Linked DNA regions of Homo sapiens: region 2 is linked to region 1. A link means that fine-mapping ties the variant in region 1 to the expression of a gene that starts in the linked region. Tissue or cell type: skeletal muscle. Region 1 holds a variant in brackets; the other region holds the start of a gene. All regions are shown on one strand. Distances are between the middles of the regions. Region 1 overlaps ATP8A1 (ATPase phospholipid transporting 8A1). Region 2 holds the start of ATP8A1 (ATPase phospholipid transporting 8A1).

What was found.
Region 2: it holds the start of ATP8A1, and the variant in region 1 is fine-mapped to the expression of ATP8A1 in skeletal muscle (GTEx, PIP 0.91).

The regions. Positions count from the first base shown.
Region 1 is chr4:42,601,494-42,617,487 of GRCh38, reverse strand. ATP8A1 (ATPase phospholipid transporting 8A1) reads left to right here. Exons shown (of 37, transcript NM_006095.2): 5 at 1,410-1,455. Among named protein-coding and RNA genes, the nearest start is that of ATP8A1, 48 kb to the left of the region's middle. RefSeq lists an enhancer at 6,108-6,652. The variant GGT/T (reference allele first, on the strand shown) is at 9,204.
Region 2 is chr4:42,649,826-42,665,819 of GRCh38, reverse strand. It overlaps ATP8A1 (ATPase phospholipid transporting 8A1), which reads left to right and starts at 8,715. Exons shown (of 37, transcript NM_006095.2): 1 at 8,715-8,995. The coding sequence starts at 8,947. It overlaps ATP8A1-DT (ATP8A1 divergent transcript), which reads right to left and starts at 8,297. Exons shown (of 1, transcript NR_186688.1): 1 at 7,473-8,297. RefSeq lists enhancers at 8,279-8,488, 9,479-9,528 and a silencer at 8,519-8,988.

The DNA of each region.
Region 1 (15,994 bases):
CTACAAATTTAACAGAACTTTAAACATTTAAGAATCTTTTTTGGCAAACTGTGCTTGCTTTTGGAAGCAATAATATGCCTATTGAAAGTCTACATTAATACACTTTTATTAGTGAGTATTTTATACTGAAAAGGAGTTCTGATTGTGTTCCTGCATGTCTGTGTGGGAAGAATCATTCTCAACAATTCTTTCGCAGAGGCATTTTGAATGTTTTGTTTGCATTTTGTGCAGTTCAGTAGCTGATTGTTTCCACAGACTGAGTGTATGCTGCCAGCTCTTATCTATTCCTCTTGGGTGTTGCCATGTCCTGGAGTGCTAATCCACACTTCTAGATTTTTCTCTTGCAGTGTTTTCATATGCACACTGTGATTCTGAAAACTGTATTTTTTCTCAAATGGAAAACTTAGGAACTCATTTGTTTTACATTTGTTCCAACCCATATTATAGTCAGGTACGCACAACTATATTCAACTTCAGGCTTTGTATGATACAATCTTTGAGCGAACAGAGTTAGTTACACTCACCGCTCTTCTGCAGTGTTAATGGAGTCTGATGAGTTACACTCGATGCTGTAAATTTAGATGGAAGCCATGGAAAACCTCTAGGTGAACCGGAGAGAAAATAGCTTTCCTGGGCACTCAGATTCTCACCTTTCCTCTGACCTTCTGTTTCTTCTTCTTACCCACTGCTATAAAACCTTGGCTTATGCAACTCTTCAAACCTACCTAGACTTAGACTAACTCACTTGCTTATTGTGTAATTTTGTAGGTGCTCTTGGGAGGAAGGAAGATATGATAAGATTATGTAATTCAATGGCTTTCGGTTGCAAGTGGTGGGAGGAGGGAATGCTGGGGAGCATTGAACAGGGGAGACTGTATGCCAGTGGTAGACATCGTTGGTTCAAGTCATTGGCCGACATCAGCATATCATTAAATTATAGAGGATGTGCTCAGCTTAATTCGGTAACAAATTTCGTAAGCTGAAAATATTTCAATACTATTATTAAACAGTAGTTATTATAGATAATTCTCTCAGGCAATCTCCTTTTTGAAGTGAGTTATTAAAGCAAAATACTAAATCAACCTTTCATACTTTTCTAGTACATTAAAATTTTAATCCTACCTATGTGCCGAGGTAAGATCCTTGTGAGGACCACAAACTTATGCTCTCAGAAGAGGAGCACTCTATGGAGATACTGGGAATTGTTCTTTCAGTTTTAAAATTCCTAGGTGTGCTCTAATTCTTCCCATCACCACTCCTCCATCAATGTATACTTTAACATTGACATGAATGAGAAATGATAAAAACCTTGAGAAACATAAGCTAAATCTTTTTTGGTATGAGTGCTCTCTTGTTTTAGTAATCTTATTCACATTTTCACAGTTGTTCTTTTTGCTTTTAAACTTTAGAAACGACATAAAGCTGATAATGCAGTGAACAAGAAACAAACGCAAGGTAGGAATTTTACATGCTTTTTTCTCATATTTGTCAAACCTACTTGTAGTATATACAAACACTTCAATTACATATAATTCAATTGCAAATAGTGTGCATCTCAAGTTTTTGTTTTGGGGTAGATTGATTTTTGCTTTGTGGCATTTGTTAGGATGACACTTAAACTCACTTTAAAGTGATTTATAGTGATAATACTTTTGAAAGCCAACATTTTAAATATATTTAAGTGCTTCATAGCAATAGTCTCTCAAATACAGTCCATAAAGTCTGCAGTTGTTTTGACAGTGTTAAATATTATAAATTTATTTTGTTTGTAATCTACAGATGTTATTCTAGAAAAGATGTATAGAAAATAATCACATGTGATGTCACTTGAGTGAAAAGCATTTTGGAAACACTGAGTTATACATGCAGATGACAGACACTCCAGAAATAAAACAAATACAACCCGGCCTGCTTCTGTACAGTGCATGGCATTTTGGCACAGCTCTTTTTGGATGGGGCTCATTTTGATACAGCCAAAAGCAAAATGATCTTCAATACAAGCAAATTCGCCATCATGCTCTAAGATTTTTTTTTTTTAATGCCCAGGAATGTGAGAAACAGACATCTTAGCTCATCTCTGAATGAATTTGCCCCATCTGAGAATCTCATCTCTGAAGTTCTCTGATGTGGTGAGGATAAGTGATGTCTGCCAACATTATCTGGTATTTAGGAAGACTATTTTTATACTGCTGATATTTCTATGGAGTCCTGTCAAAATTCCCTGCTTCTTTTTCACCACCTCCCACAATAGGCATTATATGCCAATTTTTAATACATTTAAGGATGATATATTTACTAATTAATAAATTTGCAAAATATTTACTGAGAGTATTTTATTATGGAACATATAAGAAAGTATAAGACGGGAATTTCAACTTACAACTTATAAAGAGCTTATAACATATTTGTTGAAATAGGTACATGTAAAAACATGTAAAAGTACAAAGAGATGATCTGTGTGGAAGATGAAGGATTTGGACTACATGATCTCAATTATCTTCGGATTTTTGTGGCAAATCATAGTTTCTATGTCAAGTGCTATAAAAATTGGTAAGGAGAGAAAACTGTGGTGTATCTTGAGCTAGACCTTGAATTTTAGGAGGACATTGGATGAACAGAGAGGAATGGAGAAGATATTTTTATGTGTGGGTTGAGTGGGAAAGGAGGAAGAGGGGTTTTTCAGGAAAATAAGACTGTAGGACTCCTTTGCTGAACCATTATTAGACTGCCAGGCGCAGAAAGGAGATTCACATCAGAGGGAAACAAAATCATGATTTAAAAGGTAGGCTGAGGTTGAATTGTATAGGGTCTTGAAGGCTAAGCCAAGGGGATTCCAATATTTCTTGTGGATATTGAGTCGCTGTTGAAGGTTTATGAGCCAAAACGAGACAGGCCGAACATGTGGGTTAAAGATGGAAGGCAGAATGAACAGGAGTAAGGGACTGTTAGAAGCCTGGGACAGAGCTACTCCAGGAGTTTAGTTGTGAAGGGACAAACACAGGAATTGAAAGGGAAAAAATCCAGACGTTTCAAGCCTGGTATTTTTGGCAATATGCAGTTTTTGCATTTGTTGCCGTATTGCTCAGAATATTCAGTAACAGCTTTTGAAACAGAAGTACATAAATGCTTTTCCAACCCATAATGTATCTTGTAGCAGAGGGCTCCTATGTTCAGTGACTGGCAATTATTGATTTTCAAGCCTTGGCTCAAGAAGTTGACATAGTACAGTAGAGGTGTGGTCACCATAGCTATGATGATTTTGGGCTACCACACAGGTGCTCCACCCTTCTGGGTACGTACTTACCTCCAAAAAAAAAATTCCTTGCCTACCATTCAGATAAAATTTTATTTCTTGACTATCCATCTTGGTTCATGAGTCCCCTTCATAGATAACAGGATTGGCCCTATGGCTAAATATGAGAATAGGCAAGTGAGAGGAAAAGCTTCTATAATAAATATATATAAAACTCAATTCAAAAATGAAATATTAGGGCTTAGCTATAAAAGCCATTTCAGTCAACAGAATACACTTCATATCTGTAGGTTTCTCATCCTAAGATTCAACCAATTGAAGATCAAAAATAGAAGGAAAAAAAAAAAATGAGGCCAGGCGGGGCGGCTCATGCCTGTAATTCCAGCCCTTTGGGAGGCTGAGGCGGATGGATCGCCAGAGGTCAGGAGTTCAAGCCCAGCCTGACCAACATGGCAAAACCCCATCTCTACTAAAAATACAAAAATTAGTTGGGCGTGGTGGCAGGCGCCTGTAATCCCAGCTATTCGGGAGGCTGAGGTAGGAGAATCGCTCAAACCCAGGAGGCGGAGGTTGCAGTGAGCCAAGACCGCGCCACTGCACTCCAGCCTGGGTGACAGAGAGAGACTCTATCTTAAAAAAAAGAAAAACAATGCAACAATAAAAAAAAATACAAGTTTAAAAATATAGTATAACAACTATTTACATAGCTATTTACATATTTACTATTTAAATTGTATTAGGTCTTATAAGTAATGTAGAGATGATTTAAAGTATATGAAAGGACATGCATAGGTTATATGCAAATACTGCACCAGTTTATTTAAGGGACTTGAGCATCCATGGATTTGTATCCATGGGAGGTCCTGGAACTAATCCCTCATGGATATTGAGGGGGGACTGTACTTTCTTTCAGATCTTATAAGTCCCATATCCAAGAAATTATGGCTTTTATGTTGGTAGTTGAATTTGTTTCCTAAGAGAATAGTATATTTTTGTTTTCCCCTTTGCTGCCTTTGAGTATTGGTCTTCTTGGTTTGGCAGTTGATAGGAGATAACAAAAATGTTCGAGTAGGATACTGTTTGCTGTCAGATAATTCAGATTGCTTAACATGAAAGCCATCTGTTATTAGGCCAGAATGAAATTCAATTTGCTTTTCTGAATTGAGGCAGAAGTGGGTGTATAGGAGTGGGGAGGGAGGAGTATTTTTGACAGGTAATTAATTTTTGATGGACATCTGAAGCATCCAACTCATTTTCATTTTGTCAGTGTTTGTCAAGTCCACATAATATGTAAGAGACATTTTTTTCTCAATCAAATGTTAACCCTTTTATATTCACAGAGGAATGAATATTTTCTCTCCTTATGTGAGGCATCAGAGGGTAACACTCTCATTCCTTAGCAACTTCAGAAATATAAACTTGTCTTTTTATTTCCAACATTTTCAACCGTTTAACTGAAAACTGGTGCTTATTGGATGCCCTGTTTTCACTGATAAGTTAACTCAATCAGGGATCGAATTATGGAGCTGAGACCTAACTCAGAACCTAAAAGTTGTCAACACCACTTCTGGAAACAAGCCTTGCCCCAGAGATATATAAGCTGGTTTGGTTGATGATTCAGTGACCTGATGAATATAAAATTGTGTACTGTTTTCCAACAACCTAGCTGCAGAGAGAAGACAGAGTAGGTTGACGCTCAGAAGTCCAGGGATGTGAGTGAGTCTTGATGAGTTTTATGGTCCACTCCACCCAGAGCACTGTGGCTGCTTCTCTTTGCTCCAGTGTTTTTGTTGTGTGATGGTTTGTGCATACTAGATAGGAACACTACAGAGGGAAGGTCCAACTCTTACTCAGCTTTGTGTTCCCAATAGCTCCCAGACCAGGATCCTGTCTTAGTAGGTGCTCTCTGTGTGCATGTTAAATGAACGAGTAAATGAACCACTCTCCAGATAAATACTTCAGTATACATAATAAAGGAAGAAGAAAGACTGGAAATGAAAAGAAGCCTTCCTGAAAATTCATTATCTGGAGTGCGAATAAGATGAAAAGCAGTATCTTCATAACACTGTGTCCCAGACTTTCACAGTCACTGATAAAATCCAAATATGGCAGAAGTTCTTGCCACTTTATCTTCTCTGTCAAAGTCATTATATTATCATTTAACCCTTGCTTCACCTTCTGTCAATACAATAGTTTGTCTACTGATCCCTTTCATTACTCAAAGCACTGCCCTGTTCAGAATGCGCTCATTTTCCTTGTATCTAACCTTACTTTCATTTCCTCTGATCTCTTCCCTCAGTATTTGAACTCACATTTTGGCACAGCCTCCTCCATGTGTCTACACACACAAGAGGCCATCTCTCATTGTTTTCTCTGAGATGAGTTGTTCTGCCAAATATATCTTTGCAGAAATTTATAAATTACAAATTTATAATTGTTATTCTAATATGCACATTGAAGCCAGTCCCCATATGAATTTATTGTGGTGATTGAGCTAGTTTTTATTTTAACTGGTAAAAATATGCTGTCGTTTTTTATGAAATGCCATGATGGCTAGCTTGTCAATATTTCAAGTGGAATGACAACTTCATCTAAAATCACAACATGGGGGCCTGGGAAAGGATGGATGGAGTTCAGGTGCAAACTAAGGTATTTGGGAAAATTTGTAAATGCTTCCTAATGAGTAAATTTGCTTTTTAAAGCCCCAGGTGTATTCCCTGGACGATGGTCTGTATACATTCTGCATATGAGAATGTGTGGGAGATAGAGCTGCGATCCTTAGCAGCCCATTGATCAACTGGTTTGATGCTATAGTTAAATGAAGGCTAAATTGTTTAATATCGTACCCTATTTTATTATGATACTAAGCATTAGAATAAGTAATAAAGCAGTTTTCTGATTATTTAGAAAGGGTCACATGAAATTCTTTTAAACTAGACACATAGCTAAAAATAATAAATCGACTCATATTCACCTTATCTTCCTTCCCCAGAGCTACATCAATCAGCCTTTTCTGAATGGAGTTGAGTGAGTGACAGCTGATAGCCACTAACAAGACTACTTCCCTGCAGGGCGCATAGTTGCTTATCTCCCACTGGAAACCATTTCAGCTTTAAAGTCCTTTGTGAAAAAGGTGTTGAGTTGATGTGGATTGAATGTGTTGCGGGTTGTTAAGCATGAAATGACCTACTAACAACAAGGCGGAGTTCATCTGGTTCAATTCATTTCAGTGCTGTTCAAAGAGATGTATTATGCTAAGGGACTTAAAATAGCAACACCTTTCTTGCCTGCTGAAAAAGAGAGTGTTGCTCCCTTTTTGTCTCTCTGGAGGTACCCCCACATCTGCTCTGTTCGGTAGACCTGAACATATATTCTGCCACGTGTATGTTGGCTTACCTATAAATGGTTTTTAGAAAGTAGTGTTTCAGTGATCCTAGGGACTTAAAATTAAGCATATTTATGGCCTAAGTAATTTCAGACATCTATAAGCTTTATAATATTTTCAGATTGTCACAAAGATCTGAGTATTATGCAAATACTAAAATCTAACCATTGAACTGGTTAGATGTCTTCAGCAGTAGCTCTGGATGGAGAGGAGATATTTGTGGGGAAAGACAGCTCCAGGTTGTCTTTCACTTTTTTTTTTTTTTTTGCACACAAAGGAGCAAAACCCATTGAGGAAATTTGGGAAGATGGTTAAAGTGAGAGGACTGATTTTATGGCTGGCTTTATGACTTTGCTCTGTGCTTTATTCGTGTATGTGCATACTCCACTCACATTGTCTTTTATTTTTAAATTTAAACCAGGTAGTCTGCTTTCATGGGAATTTTTCTCTCTCCTGTTTTTGCCAAACCCAAATAAGTTATATTAACATATTTTCTGGGAAAAATGGGTGTGATTCAAAGTTAGAACATTTGTTATTTTACTTCAGAAAGTCTTTATTGAACATCTTTCTTGTGTAGGACCCTGTGTAGAAAATGCAAAGAGAAATCATACTTGTCCTACAGGAAATTATAATCTTGTCGGGAAGATAAGATGCAGACTGATATAATTCAAGGTAAAAAAAAAAAAAAAATTAAGGGCCAAATGAGAGATGTAGGGATTCCAAAATGCCATTTGAGGGGTTCATGAAGTAAGAGTGGAACTTTGGTAAGCAGATATCAGGGTAGTAACTGTGAGTGATGCAGGGTGAAAGGACTAATATGAGCGTTACTGTGGAAGTGGGAAGACATGAGATGTACTCTGGAAATAGCAAATAGTCTGTTTTGGCCAGGGCATAGAATCCATGTCATGAAACAATGAGGGACAGGGACAGGGAGGCAAGTTAGGGTCATTTTTCGGAGTCTTTTGAAAACCAGGGTGAGGAACTTGGATGGAATTCTGAAAAGTATGGATAGGCTTCCACTTGTGCTTTTGAAAGAATTTGACAGCTGTATGGAGAGGTGGCAAGGAGAGGCACAGAGAGATTGATTTTCTTATTAAGGAGGGGGACAGGTTGTGTCAAGTAGAAGACAAAGGAAAGCACACAGTGGATAGATTCAACTGGACCTGGCAATGGAGAGAAACCCAGTCAAATACCAAGTGCTGCCAAATCAAAAGACCAGGACTGAGACACCCACTAAATCCAGCATTTAAAAGAAGTAGCCGTTGTTCATTTTTCTTAACTAGAGAGTAGTCGTGGAGCTCTGAAAACTGAAGCCAGATCGCAAGGAGTTGTGGAATGACTGATGGGTGAGGCAGTGGAGGGAGATTTTTCTTTCAAGGAATTTCTCAATTAAGCAGAGGAAAAAGTGAGGGACTCATGACTGTGAGCAGGAGAAAGGGAAAGCATTTCGAGAATAGGGTATTGCTGGTCTTTGTGCTCCGATCACATCGTGCCACTTATATTGATGTTTAATAAGCCATTGGTTCTCAAATTTGGCATCAGAATCCCCTGGAGCATTTGTTAAAACACAGATTGCTGGGACTCACACCTAGAGTTTCTGTAGGCCTGGAGTGGGGCCCCAGAGTTTCAGTTTTAACCTCTCAGTGACACTGCTGGTGAGGGGGTCGTGCTTTTAGGACAACTCATTTAAAGGTTGTATAAATGAGTTGATAGAAGTAGTATCAACCAATTTGACATCAATATATGTATTATTATGTGTATTACATGATTGAAAGAGGAATCCAGGAAGTTTCCATTGTCTTTTGTGTCAGTGGACACTAATGGTTCAGCCAAGCCCCTGGTGGTTTAATGTAACCTTTATAGGCAAGCTTATACAAGAGACTCTTCCTGTGCCATGTCAGTTTGTGCCACACTGAGGCTTTTGCCTTAAAGTTGTCTTTGGAAGTAAGAGTCTATATAGTGAATAAAATAATATTTTAATGTTGGCATATTGGCTTTCCTTCTTTGCCCCAGTCAAAGCCATAGTCTCAGCTATACTACAGTCCTTGATGACCTAAAATTCCTCTTAAATGCTGACTCAGAGGAATTGGAGCACACTACATTTTCTGTGGTTTTACTATTCCTCTATGACAACAGTAGTGTCATTGTCTTTTTGGATGACTTGCCTCTTGTTACCCACTTAAGAAATGATAGGCTGGGTGCGGTGGCTGACGCCTGTAATCCCAGCACTTTGGGAGGCCAAGGCAGGCAGATCACAAGGTCAGGAGTTCAAGACCAGCCTGACCAACATGGCGAAACCCCATCTCTACTAAAAATACAAAAATTAGCCAGGTGTGGTGGCACGCACCTGTAATCCCAGCTACTCAGGAGGCTGAGGCAGGAGAATTGCTTGAACCTGAGAGGTGGAGGTTACAGTGAGCCGAGATCGTGCCACTGCACTCCAACCTGGGTGACAAAGCGAGACTCTGTCTCCAAAAAAAAAAAAATGATATTATTGCCCGGGGAGGGCACCCCGGTGACACTTTCAGCAGTGGCCCCAGTGGTAGACCATTCTGATTGGGGTGG[GGT/T]GGGTGGGAGGCGTGCTTCTCTCAGAGAAGCTGATGTTAGAGTGTAAGTCAGCACCTGCACCTGTGCATTATTTGATTGGGTCCTGAGAAACTGGCCACTTCCTCCAGGGCCTTTGAGGAATCCCGAATGTTCTCTAACAGAATGTTTTCATTCAAAAAAGAAACCTATTACAACAAAGCTGTTACCTTGTATCCTGCTGAATAAAAACAAGTTACATTTGAGGTAATTGTTTAGTCTGAGCTCTCCCATGGCAGGACTGTCAGACTAATTAAGCTGTTAGAAAACTATAACAGGTGTGTTTGGTTGGAACTGGTAGAGGAGTTTTGCATTTAAAACAATGAGCTGTCAAAGCACCATACCACTAGCCATTCTGACAATCCTGTCGTAACTTATTCCTACTCCCCTTCACCAGGCTTCTTTAATCATCTCCTCTAGGCTCTTAACGCTTTCCATATATTGGAGGAATGTCATCTTCCTAAATGAAGGTAGGGAGGAACACAGTCACCTCCTTGTTGAAATCTAATCCAGTTACATTGTGACTGGTTTCTTGAACACATTCTAAATGTACAAAATTACATTGGCCTTGGCTGTGTAATGTGAGGTTTACCTAATTCTCTACTGAAATGAATACATTAAAAAAAAAAAAAAACCTGTAGAATCAGAATAGCATCTCTGTTACTTTTGGCTCAACAACCCTAAATGCTCATCACAGGCTGGGCATTGTTTCTTGCTTTCTCTAAACTTAGGTTTGTGCCGGGTCAGAGGAGGTTGATGATTTAAAAATACCTAGATTGCTAATTCAGTCACCAGCATAATACATGTGGTGGTGTTTATTTTCATTGTTCTAAGGACTGGGTGTTTAAGAACCAGTTCTAAAAGATAACAATGAATTATAGGATTGACTAGTTTCCTTGGCCAGTGTTCAAGTCTTGATTTGTATGGAAACTTTTTTTTATGTTGTGAGCTGATTTTTAACTTTATCAGAGTATACTCATCTATATTCCAAGAAGACACTAGCCTCAAGTTTGTGTATTTCCTTTCTTCATTTCTGTATTCTGGTTTTGTATTTCAAGAACACAGTAAATGGGGGATGGGGTAGAAGTACGTCCTCATTTCTAGGGAGCCTACCAGCACTGCAGATGCAGCAGGCCCATGCAGCAAGTGTTGAACAGCAAGGTTCTGTAATATTTTCAAAGAAGCGTTACTCTATTTAGTTAGGATTCCAACCCAGTGTAGGGATGTAAAGGTAATTTATACTTTCATTAATCCAGACCACTACAGCCTTCAGAATAAATATCAAATACTCATCAGACTGACAAAATTCAAGGAATGGATAAGTTTGTGCTTGTCTCAGTTTATAGTCAGTGGAAATTTATACATTGCTGGTAAAAGTATGGAGTGCTGTAGATTCTTAGGTATCTGGTTGTATCTGATAAAATTACAAACTCAAATGCCCCGGAGTCAGCAATGTTCTCTGGGGCATTCTCTCTTACAGGGTACAATCATGTGAATATATTTCATTGCTGTGGTAGTAGAAAAAAATAGAAGTCAGAATTTGCACCAGGGGGAGAATAGTTGAATGCTTTATGATGCAGCTGTTGTGGAAAATTGAGTTGTCTCACACAGGGCAAGGACAGCTCTGTGCCTATCTCTAGGACACCTGGAAGTGTGATGCTGAACACTGCCTAAGACAAGGATGAGACGGACTAGCTGGTGATTTATAATGTGCTGTTTAAGGTTTGAAACTCCCTTGTAGCCACCCAAGACTAGCTTCTCTACTCAGTTTAAGCATATATAGAGATTGATGGCTTAACTAGTTTTACTGGCTACACAGTTTGCCTTGGCTAGTCAACTAGAGGGTAGAAAAGACGCCACTGGAAACTTTTGCCTGGGCTTTCCTGAAATTCAGATTTCACATACATACCATGGAGCTTCAACACCCGTGTTGAGGGTGAAAGAGAAGGGATCCTGGGGAGCCATGCCTGTCAGTCTCTCAGGCCTCTGATGCTTTTCTGGTCTTTCATTTTCCTGCTGTACCATATCCTTTGCCTTGAGTAAAGTCTTCTGTGAATACATCCTGTGAAGTCTTGTGTGTCCACCTAATTATCCAACCCGTTGTAATTGACACATCTGTGCCATGGAGTATTTTCCAAAAATGAGTTAAATATCTCTGCTATTCATTAAAGTATTTATGGCATGTTGAGTGGAAAACCAAGTGGCAGAGAAATTTTAAAAGGGAAAGAAAAAACAAGAATGTCCATGTTTGTCTAGAGAAAGGTGTGCGAGGATTCATCAGTTAGTACTCCTTACTGTGAGAAACTGGCCTTGAGAAGAGGAATGTCAGCTTTTACCTTGTATACATACCTGTCTTGCTGGAAACATGTATTGATTTTGTCATTTGGTAGAAAACATTGAATATGTATTTAAAAGTTTCTTAGATGTGTACATTTGGGCAGTATGCCACATTTTTCTAAGTATTTCTCCAATAATGAATTGAGAGAGAACATTTGGGTGGAGAGGAGAATGCACTGTTTGGCTGGAGACAAAGATTCGCAAAAGGTCGGTTGGAGAAAGGAGGTAAATAAGTTTGAATGTGGAGAGAAAACTGATCAGAGCAAGGTTGAGGGAAAATGAGCACGTACAGAAGATGGAGGCGTCAAGCAGATTTGAAGGAGGACGGCAGAAGTGCAGCAGATTTGGAGGCGGTTTTCCATGTAAGTGCCACTGGCTTCCACTATCCGTTATTGAGTGAAGACTCTCTGGCATAATCTGTTGGATCTGAGAAGCCTGTTGTGACACTTCCCATGTGTTAAATGGCACCCAACAAAGTGGATCAGGGCTATTTTTTACATGTGAACTAACAAACATCTGTAAAGTCACAGCATGTTGAGGAGGGCTAGATTAAATTACAGAGCTGGAAGGAGTGGCCCTGAGCTGATACCAGAGAACAGTTTGTGTTAGTGCCTCTGAGGGTTACATAACCATTTCTAACTGCTTGCACTGAAAATTGGTTTAGTCACTTATAAAACTGAGATGTCTATTTTAAGCAAATGTTAAAATAGTTCATTGGCATCTTTTTCTGTAGCTATTTTTTAATTCAGTTATAGTTCACATACCATATAACTCACCATGTTGAAGGATACAGTTCAGGGGTGTTTAGTGCATTCACAAGGTTATGCACCGATCACCACAACCTTAATTCTAGAACATTTTCATTAATCCAAAAAGAAACCCTATACATGTAAACAGTCAGTCTTTCTTTCTTCCTTGAATCCCTTGCAATCACTAACCTACCTTTTGTCTCCATGGATTTGTCTGTTCTTGGCATCTTATGTACATGGGATCATACAATACGTGGCCCTTTGTGTCTGGGTTCTTTCACTTAGCATATCTCCAAGATTCATTCATGTCATTGTATCCACACTTAAATTATTTTTATGGCAGAATAACATTCCATTTAATGGCTATACCACATTTTGTTATCCATTCATCAGTTGATAGACATGTGGGTTGTTTCTACCCTTTGGCTATTATGAATAATGTTTCAGTGAACATTCATATACAAGTTTTGTGTGAACATATGTTTTCCGTTTGCTTGGGTATACACCTAGTAGTAGAATTTCTGGGTCTGTGGTAACTGTGCTTAACTTTTTGAGAAACTGCCAAAGTATTTTCCTATACAACTATTTATTAAATGTCATGTTTATGTTATTTTTAACATGAGCCCTACTAGGTAGTGGAGTTGTATCTTCAGTAAATCTATAACTGTTGCAATGGTTTTATATGATCCTATGACAGATAAGAATATTAGTGGATCCAGCATTCCACCCAGTTAGTACTTACTGAGCACCAGTGTGTGCTGTGTGATAACACTGGAATGGTAACAGTGAGTATAATAGGGAAGGTTTCTCTTGTCATGGATCTTATAATCTGGGGGAAGAGACAGCCCTTAAATAATCCTGTTTAATTAAGTATACAGTAAAACTGTGATGCTGTGATAAGTGTTCTAAAGGAAAAGTGCACGGAGCTCATTTAGATTTGGGGGTGAGGAGGAAGGACTGGGTGTCAACACAATGTCCCCTGAGAAAGTGCTGTTAAAGCTGAGATCTACAAGGTGTGTGTACAAGTTAACTAGGTGAGGATGGAGGGAAAGAGAATTCTAGGCATGGAAACATGTGCAAAGGATTTGAGACAGCAGAGAGCATGGTGCGCTCACTACAGAGGGCATAAGGAGGGTGTGTTGGGAGTGACAAGAAGTGATGACAGGAAAGAGGCAAGAGCTGCTTCATAAAAGGCCTTGTAGATGTTTTGATTTATTTTTTGAGCCTAGGGAAGCCAACTGAAGAGTTCTGAGCAAGGGGTGACCCAAGTTTGTGTGTATGGACTGATACATAATAATATGTAATTATAACATTTATGTAAAATCATCATAGATAATCCTTATAGCTACACTGTAGAAACTGAATTTGAAAGAGATTAAGAATGAATGCAGGAAACTAGCCTGAGGCTAATACAGACATCCAGTTGGGAGGGGGTGGTTCCTTGAACTAGGGGTGCTGATATTGGTGATGGTGGAGAAGATTTTTAAAATATTGGCAGATTTTGAGATGCTAAAGGCATAAAATCAACAGGAAGTTTTTAGTAGTAAAAATTATTCCAGAGTTTCAAAGGCATTTTTCTGTAAGAGTTTTAAAATGGGATAAACAGGGAGGCATATGAGCATAATAAAACTGCCAAAAAATCATAATGCAGCATTGTTCACAAAGAGAAATTAAGTTGCATCAAAAGCATTGCTACAGAAACAACAAAATAAAAGTTAAAAAAACCATACCCAAACTAATAAGTGAAGTAACAAAATTACAGGATGACAAGGTCATTCATTGTACAAAAATTTAATGCATTTCTAAATATTGCCAATGACTGGAATATAGAATAAAAAATAACCCTCGTGAGGTTAAGAAAAAACATAAAATATCAAGAATTAAATCTAGTGAAAGACCCATTCACAGAAAACTACAAAACATATCCAAGAAAAATTAAGATGTAAATAAGTACAGAAAGATAGCTTGTCCGTGAATTGGAAGACTTGAGACCCAAATCAAATTCCAGGAAGATAGTGTGTTCTCTGGAGCTTATTCATCCTGTCTAATCTGAAGTCTTAATCTTCATGTCAAATATCTTGATTTTAGAAATATTGGACACTTATAGTTTTTTTTTAAAAAAAACTAAGTATTACTATTGGGATAATTACTAATATGAGATAGGATCCGAAGGAAATAAGTGGCAATACAGAGCTCTAGACACTATTGACCAGTTTTTCCTAAATTAATGCAAACTTATAGCCCACTCACTCTGTCAGTTGATCTTGGGTGTAGTTGATTTGAACAGGACTTTACCATCTCTCTTTGTTACCATCTCTCTTATTATATTGTAGCCACTGGGTTACATAATTAAAGGGGAGCTCTCATTTATTTATTTATTTATTTATTTTAATTTTATTTTATTTTATTTTTGAGACGGAGTCTTGCTCTGTCACCCAGGCTAGAGTGCAGTGGCGTCATCTTGGCTCACTGCAACCTCCCCCTCGCGGGGTCAAGCCATTCTCCTGTCTCAGCCTCCCAAGTAGCTGGGACTACGGGTGTGCGCCACCATGCCTGGCTAATTTTTTTGGTGTTTTTTTAGTAGAGACAGGGTTTCACCATGTTGGCCAGGCTGGTCTCGAACGCCTGACCTCAGGTGATCCGCTCACCTCGGCCTCCCAAAGTGCTGGGATTACAAGCGTGAGCTACTGCTCCCAGCCCTCATTTATTCTTTATGCTTTGTTACAACTTATTTTGAGGAACATACTGTTGGACTCTGGCAGAGACAGCACCTCTTGCTTTTCTACCGGAGGCTGTTTTGACTCCGGGTCAGAAACACCAAACCCCTACTGCTCCATGAGCAACATCGAGCAGGGGATTTACTCCTGGGATCAGTTTGGGTGAGCTCTGCAGGCATTAGAGTCTTGTGTTTCAGGATCCAGTGATCAATTTAAGGTGCCTGTGCTTTAGATCCTTGGTCCGTAACTGTTTAAGCACTGTAAAAATTGGTACTTTAACTTCTGCGGTTAAGATATTGTGCTGGAAATACTTTATTTGAGCTCTCTCTAGCTTGGAATGATTATTTTTTTAAATTAATGAAGTTGATTCACCAAAATGCACTGTGAGGTATTCATTAATTTGTTTTATAAGCATCTGAATGTCCCATATACCAAAAGTGCTGCAAGTACAAGTAATAAAAAAAAAATGGCTAAGACATAATGTATGTGTTCAGGGAATTTAGAAACACAGATAATATTTTAATTTAAATAATTTATATTGTGAAACACTGAGTTCAAAACATTTTTGTTTTTAATTAATATTAAATTTGCTGTTTAACATTTTGGGGATTATTATTGTGATCGCTTTAGAGGGTTCAGGCTTCATCTATCCCAACATCAAAAGAAACTGAATCTGTTTTTGTACCTATAAATTATGCATTTTGCAAATACTTACTGAGTAGCTACTGTGTGCCAGGTACTGTGCTGTTTCCAGGGAATATAATATTAAAACAAATATTAAATGCTTTTCCCTCATGGAATTTACATCTGGATAATTTGTTGATGGGCCTTGACATATTTCTCTCCCTAAGTACTAAGTGCTGTGCCGGCTACCTCACATACTCTCTTATCCTGTTTTATTTTTATTTTTATTTTTATTTTTATTTTTTGGTGTTTATTAGCATACTCAGTGTTATAGCACAGACAACAT
Region 2 (15,994 bases), 48 kb before region 1:
AAATGATCTTACTTAAGCCTGGCATTCTTTCTAAATTAAAAGTCATGGAATTATGGAATTACAAAATTGTACTTGATAATCGTCTTTATTTCATTTACTATGCTTTTTAAATTTTGTATTTATTTTTTATTTTTTGACACAGAGTCTCACTCTGTCGCCAGGCTGGAGTGCAATGGCACAATCTTGGCTCACTGCAACCTCTGCCTCCTGGGTTCAAGCGATTCTCCTGCCTCAACTTCCCAAGTAGTTGGGACTGTAGGTGCATACCACCATGCCCAGCTAATTTTTGTATTTTTAGTAGAGATGGGGTTTCATCATGTTGGCCAGGATGGTCTCGATCTCCTGACCTCGTGATCTGCCTGCCTCGGCCTCCAAAAGTGCTGGGATTACAGGCATGAGCCACTGCGCCCAGCCTATGCTTGATTTTTAATAAAAATTCTGGACTTTCCCCCGTCAATATTTTTTACCTCATTATTGTGACTTTGTCTCCTTGAAATAACACCTAATGTGACATGGTGAGAAAAAAAAGCAAGATTTTCTTGGGAGGTTTTTTTCCTTCCCTTTTTCTTTTTCAATATTGACTTTCTGGTCAACATCAAGAAAATAAATTATATAATAATATTTTTCTCCACTGGTTATCCTTTTCATACATCAAACATCATACCATACTGTTTTCAAAATAAAAGACATAACATGCAGTAGAAACAAAATGTTTAGTGTAAATTTTTAGATACATTGCAAAAGCCCTATAAGCAACATTAAAGGGTTTCTGATATAGGTGTGGAGGCCCAGAAATATTTGGGGATACAATCATTATATACAGATACAGCCTAGCTTGCCCAGAGTACAATATACCGTGGTAATTTTATATTTATTCACATAATAATTTGATTAGTATTTGTCTTCCTGATGCAACATACATTCTATAACAGTCTGGATCCTGTCTGTTTCAGCTGACCACTCAATTTCCAATATCCTGCTCATTATCTAAAACATGGTGGGCACTCAATAAGTTGTGCTGAATGCTGATGAAAAAGCTTATCTAGTTACAGATAAGAACCATTCCATGGGTCAAGAGGAAACTTTTGGAAGGAATGGATATGTTTCTTATCTTGAATGTAGTGATGGCTTCACAGTTATATATATGTATCAGAACTTAAATTCTACATGTTAGACACATGAAGTTTATTGTATATCAATTCTACCTCAATAAAGCTGCTTTTAAAAATGTCTAAATGTATGACAATATTATGTTGATTGTCTTATACACAAGTTCAGGGACTATTTTATAATAATACTTTGTATAGAAACCAGCATTATTGAAATGCTGTTTGGTAACCTTTGGAAAAGAAGCAGCACTTCTAATTAAGTATGAATTTTTCACATCTTGGCTCTGATATGCAGGAAACTTTTAAAGTAAAAAAAAAATAATTTAATTAATCTCTTTTCATCTGTTTGAAATAACGCTATTGAATGTAAGATCCAACACTAGATATTATGATACAGCAGATCATTTCCCTTTGAATGTGCATTTACTTTTTGAATAAAATACTCAATAAGTGTTTTTCCCAAAAGATTGTGTGTGAGTTGAACCTGATTTTAAATATCCTGGAGATACTAATTCTTTAAAAATTTCTTTCAAGAGTTCTTTCATATAATACAAAACTGCATTTTGAAACTCTAGTTTCATTTAAACAGGAGCAGAATATTTTCAATTATATTGAAGAAAACATTGTTGTACTTTTTTGTTGGAAATACCCAGTATATGCAGAAGATAATAACATTAAAGACACTATAACTTTGTATTAAGACCTTGCTAAGGTGTTTGAAAAGACAGTAGTACTACAGGTATGAGAAATGAATCATAGTTGTGAGGGAAAAGTATTGATTTTATCATTATGAGTAAGAATAAGTGACTAAATTATTCAATGACAGCAAATTTAGAACTTTTGGTTGAAATTGGTTTATATTTAAAATTTGATCACTTAATTTTGACATTAATTTTTGTGGCACAAGGTTTTGCTGATATCAAATACTCCAAAGCAAATATGTTCTAAATTATTTCATGCAAATAATTCTCACAAAATAATATACCCCAATAAACATACTTATGAAGGACATAACTTATTATCTCTTCAGATGGAACACTACCTATCCTTCTACTCATTTCCAGTTTCCAATCTGAGGGATCCAGTTCATTTACATTCATTCATTCAACAACTATGTATGAATCCTGGACTGTATGACAGACACTGTTGTTAAGGTTGAACAAATTGCAATTAGCAAGACAAACGCAGCGAGAACTATTTATCATAAACAGGTAAACAAACAAATAAGAAAACTCCACATAGTGATAAGTACTATGAGAAAAATAGAATAAGGCAATGTGGCAGTGTCTAGCATTGGGGATAGTGGGGCAATATTAGCTGGAGTAGGCTGGAATCATCTGAGCCCTGTGGACGAATGAGGGGCTAGAGAAGCTGAGTCTGAGAAACAAGCAAGGGCAGGATCATAAAGATTTGGTTTTCTTCCTGAGTGCCATGGGAAGCTACCAAAGAGTCTTAAGAAATAACATGAACCAGTTTGTGTTTTAAAGCAATAATAATAATGGTGGCTCCCGTGAGACGAATGGAAGACAGGCATAGAAGCAGGGCGACCAGTTAGAAAGTATGGCAGGCAAGCGATGATGGTGACTTGTACACAGGTGGTAGAGGTAGAGATAAAGTAATGTGCATAGAATGAAGGTACATTCTGGGAACAGAGCCTAAACATCTCGCTCGTGTATTGGAGGGTTGTGCATATAAAGGTGGTGACACAAAGTAAGCAATCAAAATGAAGAAGGCTGGGGCAAAGAAAGTCCCTTACAAGTCTAACAGTATAATGATACTTTAACCATACACTATGCATTAAATTAATATATAACACCCATGATTATAGATACCAAAGCCTAATCTTCACTTGGAATAACCAGGCAGCTTTGCTATTAGATAGAATTTTACATCTCAACCTAAATGTTAAACTAAAAGATGTTAATTATGTAAAACTTAAGATTAATTTACCCGTTTCTTTAGTGCTTCTGCAAAAGAATTGGAAGTATAGTGGCCAGCACTGCTTAGTGTATGTATTGTATGGTTGTGTGGTAATCCACTTTCCATGCCTCAATCTCAATCACAAGCAGGGTTCTCAGCCATGTCTCCAACAACCCCCAGGACATGAGTTTCCAAAGCACCTCCAGCTGCATTGTGAGTTAACAAATTAGTGAGCAAGCTTTTCTCACCTACTTGACTATAAGTTTCTCCCAAAGGGGACCAATTCATAATTTTGGGGGTCCCAGACAATGACAAACCAGGTAATATCAAGTAATTAATAAGTGCAATTCCTCCCAAGATAGGAATATCCTCTGATATCTCTTTTGGATTTTCTGGACTTGGTCATTTTTTGGCTGATGCCTTTGGAGATTTAATTTTAAAAAATTTTTAACAGCTTTATTAAGATATAATTCACATAACATACAATTCACCTTAATATAATCCATTAGTATATTTACAGAATTGTGCATCCATCACAATATTTTTTATTACCCTAAAAAGAAACTCTGCATCAGCTGTCATCTCCCAGTGCTCCCATTCCACCCCCCATCCCTCAGCAACCATTAATCTTTTTGTTTGTGTAGATTTGCCTATTCTGGACATGTCATATAATTGGAATCATACAATATGTGAGCTTTTGTAACTGGTTCTTTCACTTAGCATGTTTTCAAAGTCATCCATGTTATAGCATGTGTTATTTTATTACTTTTTATTGCAGAATATACCATGGTATGAATATACCACATTTTATTTATCACTTGAGGGACATTTGCATTATTTCCCCTTTTTGGCTATTATGAATAATGTAACATTTGTGTATAAATTTCTGTGTGGACATCTACTTTTCTCTTAGGTGTATACCTAAAAGTGTAATTGCTAGACCATATGGTAACTCCATGTTTAACATTTAATGAATTGCCAGACTATTTTCTAAAGCAACTTCACCATTTACATTCCACCAGCAGTATATGAGTGCTACAACTTCTCTACATTCTCTCCAACACAAAATTATCTATCTTTTTGATCATAGCCATTCTACTGAGTATGAAGTGGTATCTCAGGTTTTTGATTTGCGCTTCCCTAATAGCTAATGACATTGAGCATCTTTTTATGAGTTTATAGGCCATTTGCATATCTGCTTTGGAGAAATAACTATCCAGATCCTCTGCTCATTGCTCATTTTTAAATTGGGTTGTCTTTTTATTAGTGAATCATAATAGTTCTTTTTTTTTCTTGAGATGGGTTCCTGCTTTGTCTCCCAAGCTGGAGTGCAGTGGCGTGATCATGGCTTAGCTCCCTGCAGCCTCGACCACCCCAGCCCAAGTGATTCTCCCACCTCAGCCTCCAAATAGCTGGGGCCATAGGCGTGCACCATCACGCCTGGCTAATGTTTTAATTATTTGTAGAGACAAGGTCTCAACATTGCTCAGGCTGGTTTAGAACTTTTGGGATTAAATGATCCTCCTTACTTGGCCTCCCAAATTGCTGGGATTACAGGCAAGAGCCATGTCACCAAGCCTCATAATCGTTTTTAATATAATCTAGGTACAAGTCGCTAATCAGCTATATGGTTTACAAAAGTTTTCTCCCATTCTGTGGGTTATTTTACAATTTCTTAATGATGTATTTGGAAGCACAAAAGTTTGGTTTTGTTTTTTTGTTTGTTTGTTTGTTTTTGAGACAAAGTCTCGCTCTGTCACCCAGACTGGAGTGCAGTGGCACGATTTCAGCTCACTACAACCTCTGCTTCCTGGGTTCAAGCGATTCTCCTGCCTCAGCCTCCCAGGTAGCTGGGATTACAGGCACCCACCACCACGCCCAGCTAATTTTTGTATTTTTAGTAGAGATGGGGTTTCACCATGTTGGCCAGGCTGGTCTCGAACTCCTGACCTCAAGTGATCCACCCACCTGGGCCTCCAAAGTGCTGGGATTACAGGCATGAGCCACTGTGCCCAGACAAAAGTTTTTAATTTGATGATGTGCAATTTATCTATTTTTTCTTTTGTTGTTTGTGCTTTTGATGCCATATGTAAGAAACTATTATCTAAGTTAATAAATATTTACTATTTTTCTCTGAAGAGTTTTATAGATAATTTAACTTTTACATTTTGGGTGTTTGATCCATTTTGAGTTAGTTTTTGTGTATGATACAAGGCAGGGGTCCAACTTTTTTCTTTGGCATGTGGATATCCAGTTGTCCCAACATCCTTTGTTGAAAAGACTATTCTTTCTCCTATTTAATTTTCTTGGCATGAAAACTTGATTTCCAATCTGTTTAGTTCCAGTAGTGACATCCTCTTAGTTCTTTTATTGTATTTTTTTCCTTTGTAATTTCAACTATCATTTACCCAACTCTGGGTACCTGACAGTCACCTCTGATTTGAATGAAGTTTAAACCTGAGTCTGTAGGCCAATGAAGTTCCATTGATGTCCACACCCTGCTGTGACAGTAGAACAGAGTAGACGTATTTACACATACTTTATTTTCTCTAATGACTTAAAACAGCCATCCTAATTCAAAGAGAAAGCTAAGGACATGTTTTCCCATTTAGTCCTACATGGCACAGTTATTGGGAATGTAATGAACATCTGCCACTCAATGTTCATTATATTAGAACATAATTTACTTAGTAAAGTTGAGGAAAATTTGTGGCAAAATTCAAGGGAAAAATGTCAAAAAAAAACCCACAAACGCTTAAAAGTGGGCATATTGGGATTCCTAGCATCATTCATTTAGAAGGCTCATTAGGAAACAAAAGTATCCTAAGATGACATTGCAGACTCTCCCAAATCTGGCACCTTTAGTCTCCATACATGGATTCCCAGTGAAAAACCTTTACTGTAGTCAAGTCAGTCTCTTTGTTCCTGCCAAATATATATGCTCCTCTATCACTCCACTGACCTTAAACATTCATTAAACAATGACTACCAAGCATTCCCACTAGAAAGAGGTCTCCTTTTTATTTCTATAGAATTAACCCCTACTTTAAGATCTAGCTCAACAATGTTGATCACCCTAGCTCTTAGAAACTTAGCTTTCTCTCAAAGTCCATAGTTGCTGCTTGTCTATTTGGCATGACATATTAGCCATCTTGTTGCTACTGCTGTTTAGCTTTCATTAAGTGCCTCTATAACCTAGTTCTCTGGCTCAGCACCTCACACGTGTTACGTATTCAATGTACATTTTGTGGAGGATAAAACCTGGATCTTAGGGAAGTTGTCCTTAAATAACCCTCTTCCTTCTAAGTCTATCAGCAGTATAGTCATATGACCTGAAAGATTTTAAATGATCTTGCTGACATCTGAATTCTACTACAGATTCCGTGACAAAGTCATGTGGCTGGAACCGGAGTTCCCTGCCAGGGGCTGGCACATTGCACTTCTCACACAATAGAAGGTGAGACGATCTGAGAGCCTTAAAATCAAGCAGATGCAGATTAATGCAATCCTCAACTTCAATCAAGTTCTGAACCAATAAAAATGTGTGATTTCTAGCAGTCAGGAATGAGTGGTTTTTAAGAAATAAGGTAGTTGGGATACGCTTGCCATTATGGATAAAGTGATAATATCAGGGAAAGGACACACGGTAATCTATAGACTATATCATGCAATATTCTTCTCTGTATAAGTGACTTGTTTCCTGTATCAATGACGTTTTCAACTTTGCTGATGAGTTAATGGGACACACATGTAAAAAATGGATTGCTCTATACAAAACAGAGGTAACTTCTGGAGTTCCTTCAGTTATTACTTGTAAATAAGCAGAATTGAACCTCAACCCCATCTGAGGACTAATTAGGAATTACAAAGGTGATTGCTCATAAATGAACTATCGTCATGCTGCTGCGCACTGATTTTTAATAAGAACTGGTTATGGCTTCATATAGAATTACACCTAAAATGTTAATCAGAAAAGCACTGCATTTCCTCCAGTTTCTGTTCGCTAACTTTTAAAGCTGATTATTATTTTTACTATTTTCCTTGCTATGTTAGCCCTTTAATTTTGTTTCAGACTCATGTTCATTAAGCCAGAGCAAGCCTGCTTTATACAAGGAGACCCTGGGCCTTGGAAGAAATAAAAATGCCCAGTGATGACAGTCCAGATAAAGCTGTGTTCATTTTTTACGTTTAGAAGACCATACTTTAAATCATGACTATCACTGAAACAGATAGATTCATTTATTGTTGAGTCCTGCTTTACCCTGAGATGTTCCATGAACACTGAGAATACATTTTCTTTGTTCTAATTCCAGCCTCTGAATCAGAGCCAACTAGAGTGGGCTCTTCATAAATATGCATTGACTGCCTGAGTATTAATGTAGGGCAGGGCTCTGATTAGCAAGTGCTACCTGCAGGAAGCAGAAGAAATACCACAAATGGAGATAGGACGCTATTAGCAGATTTTATTTCATTTTTTCCTGAGGCTTGGAAATAATCACTTCTCTCTCAGGTCAAACCTCTCCAGCTCTCTCCCTTCAGGATGTGAAAAGATCTCAAATAAAAGGCCTCTATGTGAGGATCTCTTTCGCTGGTTGCTGGAGGAAGAGCATGAAATGAGGGAAGAAGCAAATTGCTTCTGATTTATTGTTTCTGGTTTATTCCTTTCCTGCCAGTTCAGCAGCTCGCCAGAAACAGCACAAAACCTTACATCTTAACTTGAAGGTGAAGTATTTGTTTTGACAACTTTTTAGCATAGATCTCGGTATACAAAATAAAAGGTAATGAGGCTATGATAGTCTGAAGGACATCGGCAAATTAAAATTTAACATATTTATGGATTTTATACAAAGACTCCTCTCCCCTTTGCAGATAAAACGACTGCATCCAACTTTATGCAGATTTAACTAAAAGAAAAAAAAAAAGTCTTTTGTGAACCACCTGGGCCAATACTTAGTTGGCTTAATTGCTATTTCAGTGCCTTGTCAGGCTGCAGAGCCTGAACTAGGGAGATGCACCGGGCCCACTTGCAGGCGGGGCCCAGATGCACCCAAGCCCCATGGACAAGAGCACCATGGGCACCAGGGGCCTCCCGACCTGGCAGCCTGTTGCTAGTGGGCGAGGCAGGAGGACAAGTGCGGCTCAGGCCACGAGTCGGGCTGGGCGTGCAGAGAGGTTAGAATTACACCCAGATGGCGAACAGTCAGTCGTTCCTTTCCTGCTCTGGCTGGGAGCTAAACCTTGTAGTCCCAGACCCTTTCGCCTTCGCCTGCCGGCTCAGACCCAACAGCTCTTTCCGGACGACGGGCGGCTCCACTGCGATCAAAAGCCAGGGGTAGCGGGAGGGGATTCGTGAGAATGCAGCAGCCAGAGCAGTCTTTCCTTTCTGAGCAAGATGTGAGAGAGTCCGAGTGGCCTGGAGGAGGAACCGGGTCAACCAACTCCACAGGGCGGAGCGAAAACGCTGGAGGACTAAGGAGGCTAAGAGTTGATCCCCCCTTTGAGTCGTGATACGGTCCGAAGCGGGGCGGGGCGGGGCGAAGGAGGCTCCCCCTGGCTCTCCCCGCCCCTCACCCGCCTTCCTTGCTGAGCGGCCGCGGGAGGGGGAGCGCGAGCCCCGCAGGCCCCTCCCCCGGCGCCGGCGCCCGAGCTCCGCCCCTCGCCGAGCCGCCCCTCCGCGGCTGCAGCAAGAGCTCGCCCAGCTCTGCGGGCGCCGCCACCTTCGCCGCCACCGCTGCCTTTCTCCTCCTCCTGTCGGCGTGCGGGGGCCGCGCCCGGCGGCAGCTCTGCCCTAGGTGGGCGGCGGCGCGGCCCAGGCTGCAGCTGAGCGCTCTGCGCGGCGCAGCCGGGTCTCCCGCGTGTACCACGCCGTGACAGGTGCAGAGTCCGGGCTGAGGACCCACCTGCAGCCGCCGCCGCGATGCCCACCATGCGGAGGACCGTGTCGGAGATCCGCTCGCGCGCCGAAGGTAAGGGGCCGCCGAGGCTCGGGGCTAGCCCGGGGTCGGGAAGCGAGTGTGTGTGTGAGCGTGTGTGTTTATCCTGGAAGAGACCGCATCCTACCTCTTCCCCGGCGGCAGTCCGACTGTCGCGCCCGGCCCCTAGGGGACCCTTCCCCCCGCGCTGCCCCCAGTGTACTCGCAGACCCTTTCCAGGCTCCAGTACCCTCGAATGGGTGTTCTCCGCGGGAGCCCCGAGGCGTGCTTTGCACCGCAGTGTGACCATTAGGTCCCAGTCACTGAGCTCACTCGCCCTGCCCACCTCCCTCCCCACCAGTTCGATTTCCACTCAGCAGATCCCCAGCCCGCCGCCCCTGCCTCCGGCGCCCACCGTTTTGCAACCCCCTATCTGAGCTCCCAGCGAAGCGAGTTTGCTTTTCCCCGGCTGCAGGATCCTTTGATCCGTAGTCCCTTGGCTCTCGAAGCGCGGGGAGCCTTCATCGGGGTCGGGTGCCGAGTGGGTTCCCTGCATTACAGCTTCTGCAATTCTGCCTCCTGCAGCGGAGTCCCACCGGCTCGCGTCTGAGGTTTCGTTTTTGTGTTTCCCTTTTGCCCGAAACCCTCACTTCGGCCAGCTGAGCTGACTTTTCAGCCAGGTGGAAGCTGTTTTCTTTGCTCCACCTGGGGCCAGCTCTTGAATGGCCATGGTTGTCAACACTGAGCAACAGATGCTCCGGGGTAGAAGCAAGTAAGCTTTCCGAGGGCCCAGACTCTTCATCGTCTCCGAGGAGCCCTCAACATCCTGCCTGCCATGTGGCAGGCACTCTGTAAATATTATTTGATTTTGCTCGCGTCAAAGCCAAGACTGTAAATATCCCAAGGTTTGTTTGTCCTCTCCCATAAACCTGTACTTGAATCCTGCAGAGGGTGGAATAACATGTTTTTCAGAAATCTATCTTGCCATCATCGCTGATTCCCACTCTTCCTCCCCACCTCCATCTTTTAATGTGAGACAGGTGGTGAAGTGGTTTTAGAAAAATATATAAGTTAGGAGAATTGGATTTCAGGGATGGAGACAGGCCATTTTTTCTCCTTAGGGGCTCCCTGTAAAAATAGGGTCCCTGAAATTTTCTGATTGCAGTATTTAGGAAATATTAAATGAAACTGCTGTGGGGAGAAGACGAAGCAAGATTCAAAACTGGCCTGTGTACTACATAGGAATTCGGTACATGCTGTCATTTGTAATACCCAAAAAATACTTATATAGGGCATTATAGTTTTACATACACAGTTGAATACATTATACTTTTAAAATGCACACTGTAAAAATTCATTTTTTTTACACTTCTGAGTGAAATTAGTCATAGAGATAGTGAAAGTAGAATGGTAATAGTTGGTGGTGTTCTTTTAAATAATAGCAATTGATGGGTCCTATATTGTGGGAAATAAGGGGAAGAGAAAAAGTCTGAGAGCACTGCAAAACCTGTGGCATGTGAGGGGATTACAGGGCTGCAGTATTGTTCTTGATTGGCTTGTGTATTTTCCAAAGTACTTTTACAAAGATTACTTTATGGAAACTTACAACACTCCTGGAGGTTGGTGAAGGTGGAGTGCCATCTGATAGTTGAGGAAACTGTGGCCCATATGGTTTAGTAATTTGCCCAAGGTCAAGTAACTAGTTCAGTGACACATTTGGATTAAGAGCTCTGGGAAAACAAGGACTGCTGCTTGTTTAATCTTTGTATTCCCTGTGCGTCCAGCACAGTGTCAGGGCCATAGTGGTGCTTGGTGAGTGAATGACCCTTTCCCCTGAGATTAGTTGATTCCAGTTTATTATAGCTTCAGCATGTGCTTGGGACTGTGGTGAAGACAAATAATGACTCTGTGGGGCTGGCGTTGTGGCTCATTGCCTGCTCTGCCCACACTTTTCTTTCCTAGGAAATATTTCTTTCCTAAAAAATATAGTCCTACCTTTCCTAAGGAATATTCTCCTTTGAGAGAGGCCCTGCTGCCTAGAGGGCCTTGTTCTGAACTGCAGCCTTTTTGGCCTCAGCTGATTGGACTATGGTTGGCTCCTGACCCAGGGTCAACCAATTCTTATGTGACTCAGACACTTGTAACCTTGTGGTTTGGCTCAAAAAGAGTCTCTGTGTTAATCATATCTCTCTTGAAAACATTAAAGTTAGAGATTTAGAGTAAAAGCAGAAGGGAGCAGAGGTGAATAGGCTGGTATGGGAGAGAATGGGTGGCCATAATAAGTCATGGGAATGCTGCTGATAGAAGAAAGCAGAAACTATGAGTGAGTAGAGAGATAGCAAAGAAAATGGAATGGATGGGCAGACACAGATCCTGAGAGAGGGTGGCGAGACCTTGGAGCCTGCCCTCCCGAATTTTATAGCCCTAGTTCCCAAGTAGCATTAAAATAAGCTCTTTTCCCCCCCTTGAAATGACTTGAATGGGTTTCTGTTCCCTTCATCCAGATTGGCCAGATGTATGACTGTCATGCCTGTAAGTTGTTTACAACCAAACTGGGGAGAAAGGACTTAAAGAGGGAATAAATAGTCTAAGAGGGGATGTTGTTAATTAAATATTGTGCATGCTGTGGGGGACGCAGGACCTGTGGAAGATTAGGAATTTAGTACATACTTATTACTGAACATAAGGCCTGCTGAGTGAACATTTCATTGAGGTGTGATTTGAGATGAGCCCTCACACAGTGCTTCTCAAACTCGAAGGTTCATAGGAATCACCTGAGGATCTTGTTAAACGCAGAGTCTGATTCAGGAGGTCTGGAGTGGGGCCAGAGTTACTACATTTCTGACAAGAATGTAATGCTGAAGGATGCTGGCCTGCAGATCACAGTCTGAGCAGCAGGATCCTAAAGGATACTGACATCTATTTCTGTAGTTAGGAGAGTGTTGAAGACAGTCATAACAAGAACAAATGGGGAAAGTGAACATGGCTTATTTCAGAGTTCTTAAGGAAATTGGCCGGGAGCAGAGGGAAACTTGGAAGGAGCAGGCTAAAAGTTTGGATAGGTAGATTACTGCCAGATTACAAAGCATTTTAAATGCCAAGGTGAGTCATTTGGACACAGGACCGAATATTTGAACAGGTTCTTAGAGTTCATTGAATCTAATTTCTTATTTAAGCCTAACTCCAATATATAATATCTAACAGGGCCAGTTGGGGGCCACATCGTTATAAGGGAGGGACATCCTAAAAGTAGTAACTTAGTTAAGTCTGGAAGTGTGTTGGCTGGTTTGGAGGAAAAGGTATGGTAGATAGACTCTTTTGCAAAACAGTCTTAAAATGACAAAAGTCAGAATTAGTATTAGAGTGGAACAGTGAGAATGGGAAGGGAGGAATCAGATTTCTGACTGAATCATTAACTCATTCAGCAGATGTCTACTGAACTTCAACTACTGTTACAGGCACTTGGGATACATCAGTTAACAGAAGAGGAAAAGCATGGCCCTGGAGGTGCTTACTTTCTAGTGAGGCAGGAGACAAAACACACACAAAATATGCTAATTATAGAATTTGTTGTGTGGCAAATGGGGAAAATGAAGAGAAAGCAAAATGTTTAAGGTGGGTGGATGGATTGCAATTTTAAGTAGGTTAGTTAGACTAGCCCTCATTGAAAAGTTGGCATGAAGGAGATAAGGGAGTTGGCCTGGTGGGGATCTGGGGGAAGGGTGTTCCAGCCAGAGCAAATGCCCCAAGGCAGGAGAGAATCGGGAATTAGGAACGGTGAGGGGAAGAATAGTAGGAAATGAGGTCACAAAGGTCATTGTGTTAGTCCGCTCTTAGGCTGCTAATAAAAACATACCCAAGACTGGGTAATTTATAAAGACAAAGAGGTTTAATGGACTCAGTTTCACATCGGGAATTAGGAACGGTGAGGGGAAGAATAGTAGGAAATGAGGTCACAAAGGTCATTGTGTTAGTCCGCTCTTAGGCTGCTAATAAAAACATACCCAAGACTGGGTAATTTATAAAGAAAAAGAGGTTTAATGGACTCAGTTTCACATGGCTGGGGAGGCCTCACAGTCATGGCGGAAAGTGAAGGAGGAGCAAAGGCAAAAGAGCGTGTGCAGGGGAACTGCTCTTTATAAAACTATCAGATCTCGTGAGACTTATTCACTGTCATGAGAACAGCACGGGAAAGACCTGCCCCCATGATTCAGTTACCTCCCACCAGGTCTCTTCCACAACACTTGGGGATTATGGGAGCAACAATTTAAGATGAGATTTGGGTGGGGACACAGCCAAATCATAGCAATCATATTATAGGACTTTGCTATTTAGTGAATATTTAGTAAACATAGGGCAGGAGAGAGAAGGACTTTTTTGAAAAAAGCAAGTCTCAACAATAATTTAGAATTCTAATATTAATAAGTTACCATGGATCTTATTGGTAATAGCATATTGATATTTTATTAGTAATAACATTGGTAGTAGGTTCATAAATTATCAGGGATCTTATTGGGCTGGCTTGTGAAGATTTAGTTGAGTAAATCTGTGGTGGGCTTGGGGATTCGCATTCTTAATGAGCCTCCCAAGATACCCTGGTGCTGGTGAAACACATTTTGAGGAAATTTCCATTACAGTCTTGAGCTTGACTGGTTGAGAAAATCTATTAAACAACAAGGAAATTGGGAAGGAGGACTAATAAAATAAGAGATGATACTAATTCAAATTTTGAGGTAACGGGGACATCCAAATGGACATGTTTTAAAGGTAGTTGGAAATTTTTAGGTGAGATGTGGGAAACCTCAAACTTGGGAATCTTGAGAGACAATAGTTGAAACCCTGATAGTGGAAAAATTTGCCATAAGGCAAGAGTAGATAAAGCAGAAGACTAAGAATTTTAGGTCTCTTTATTTAGCTGCCCCAGATAAATCAAATGGGTGTTTGAACTTAGCATTTGAAATCTGGAAACAGACTGAAATAATGGTAGCTTACACAAAATAGTTTTTCTCACTCCTGTAAAACTAGTGTGGAGGTAGACAGGGTTGGCTGTGCCTGCTACACAAAGTCATAAGGGATGTTGGCTCCTTGTGCCTTTCTGCTTCACTGTCCTGAGAGTTTGTCTTCCATAAAGTCACAGCATGGTTGCTGGGGTGCCAGCCATCATGTACAATAGTTTTAGCCAGGAGAAAATGGAAGGGTGAAAGGCAAACAGGTTTTTCAGAAAGCACCACACAAAAACTAATGCTTATTTTGCATTGGTTTCCACTTGCAGGGCAAGCTGGGAAATGGAAATTTCCAGCTGGACACATTACCCAGTGTTGTGTTACAAACGGAAAAGGGTGTATGGTTATTGAGCAGTGCATTAGTCCATTTTCACACTGCTGATAAAGACATACCCGAGACTACTCAGCTTGGAATTCATTGTATCATTATCAGCATTTTGGGTCAAAGCCATTCAACAAGTCTCTAGGGAGTTCCATACTTTCCCACATTTTCCTGCTTTCTGGGCCCTCCAAACTTTTTTCAACCTCTGCCTGTTACCCAGTTCCAAAGTCATTTCCACATTTTCAGTATCTTTTCAGCAGCACCCCACTCTTCTGGTACCAATGTACTGTATTAGTCTGTTTTCATGCTCCTGATGAAGACGTACCGAGACTGGGCAATTTACAAAAGAAAGAGGTTTAATGGACTTACATGGCTGGGGAGGTCTCACAATCATGGCAGAAGGCAAGGAGGAGCAAGTCAGATCTTACATGGATGGCAGCAGGCAGAGAGAGCTTGTGCAGGGGAACTTCCATTTATAAAACTATCAGATCTTGTGAGACTTATTCACTATCACAAGAACAGCATGGGAAAGACCTGTCCCCATGATTCAGTTTCCTCCTACTGGGTTCCTCTACGACATGTGAGAATTGTGGGATTTACAATTCAAGATGAGATTTGGGTGGGGACACAGCCAAACTATATCAGGCAGACAACAGAATCAGTCACAGTGAAGTTCTCAGATTGCCAAAGGCTCTTGCTTGGATAACATAGAAACTGCTCTGGAGCTCATACTTTACATATAATAAGGATTAAATTGTTCAGAACTAAAGAAATGCACACACACAAAAACTTCACATACCTATCCAGTGGTTTGTGTTTTCTTCTGTTGAATACTATAATGCTAAAATATAATGACATTTATTTGATTATGTAAAATATGTGCTAAACGATGTATCCAGAAGTTGTTTTAGGAATTGTTTTTCTAAATGGCAACTCTAAAATGTTTGTAACTATGTAGAATAGTATGTTTTATTTACATAAAAGGTAACAAAAGGAATAAAAAGTAATTTAAGCTGTCCTTAAAGGAAAAATTTTAGGACGCTATTCCAGGTAAAAGATGACTAAGGTTTTTGTTCCTTTAAAAACCACTTATTATGCACCAGCTGTGTGCCAGCTAAATGGGTGGTGGGACAAAAGGCTGTGGTCGATGAAGGAGGTCCCAAAGGAAACATGGAGATGAGTATGGAGATGAGTTCAGTTTTACCTGAAGTGGCACTGTGTGAGAAGGTGTGTATGAGTATAGCGATACAGCATGTCATCAATATTTGAAAATCTCAAAGTAGGTGTCATTTTACTTAGTGTAATTCTGGAGATATAAGTGTATTAGATCTGATTATTTTAGGTTTTCTATCTTCAGTGCAGAATTCATGGTTTGTTTTTTCTGTCATTTCAAAAACAGAATTGAAGCATATACCTAATGTTACAGCTGTGGGAATGTTTGCAAAGGTCAGAGGACACTTTTGAAGTTAACGAAATGTTTGCTGCGTGGGTCTCTATTCACATGGTTTCATTGGAATGTCAATGACATGAAGGCCACCACTTTCCCCTTCATTCTTTACTTCTTAGCGAAAGGAGCCCAAACCTTCCAATGATTGTATTCTCCGGGTAGTAAGCTCCCTAAGGGCAGGGGGTTTTGTCTGGTTTGTCCACTGATATATTGCTCCCCATGAGGACATTGCCTGGCACATAGTAGGCATTGGTTAAATGAATGAATCTATGTCCTAAAGA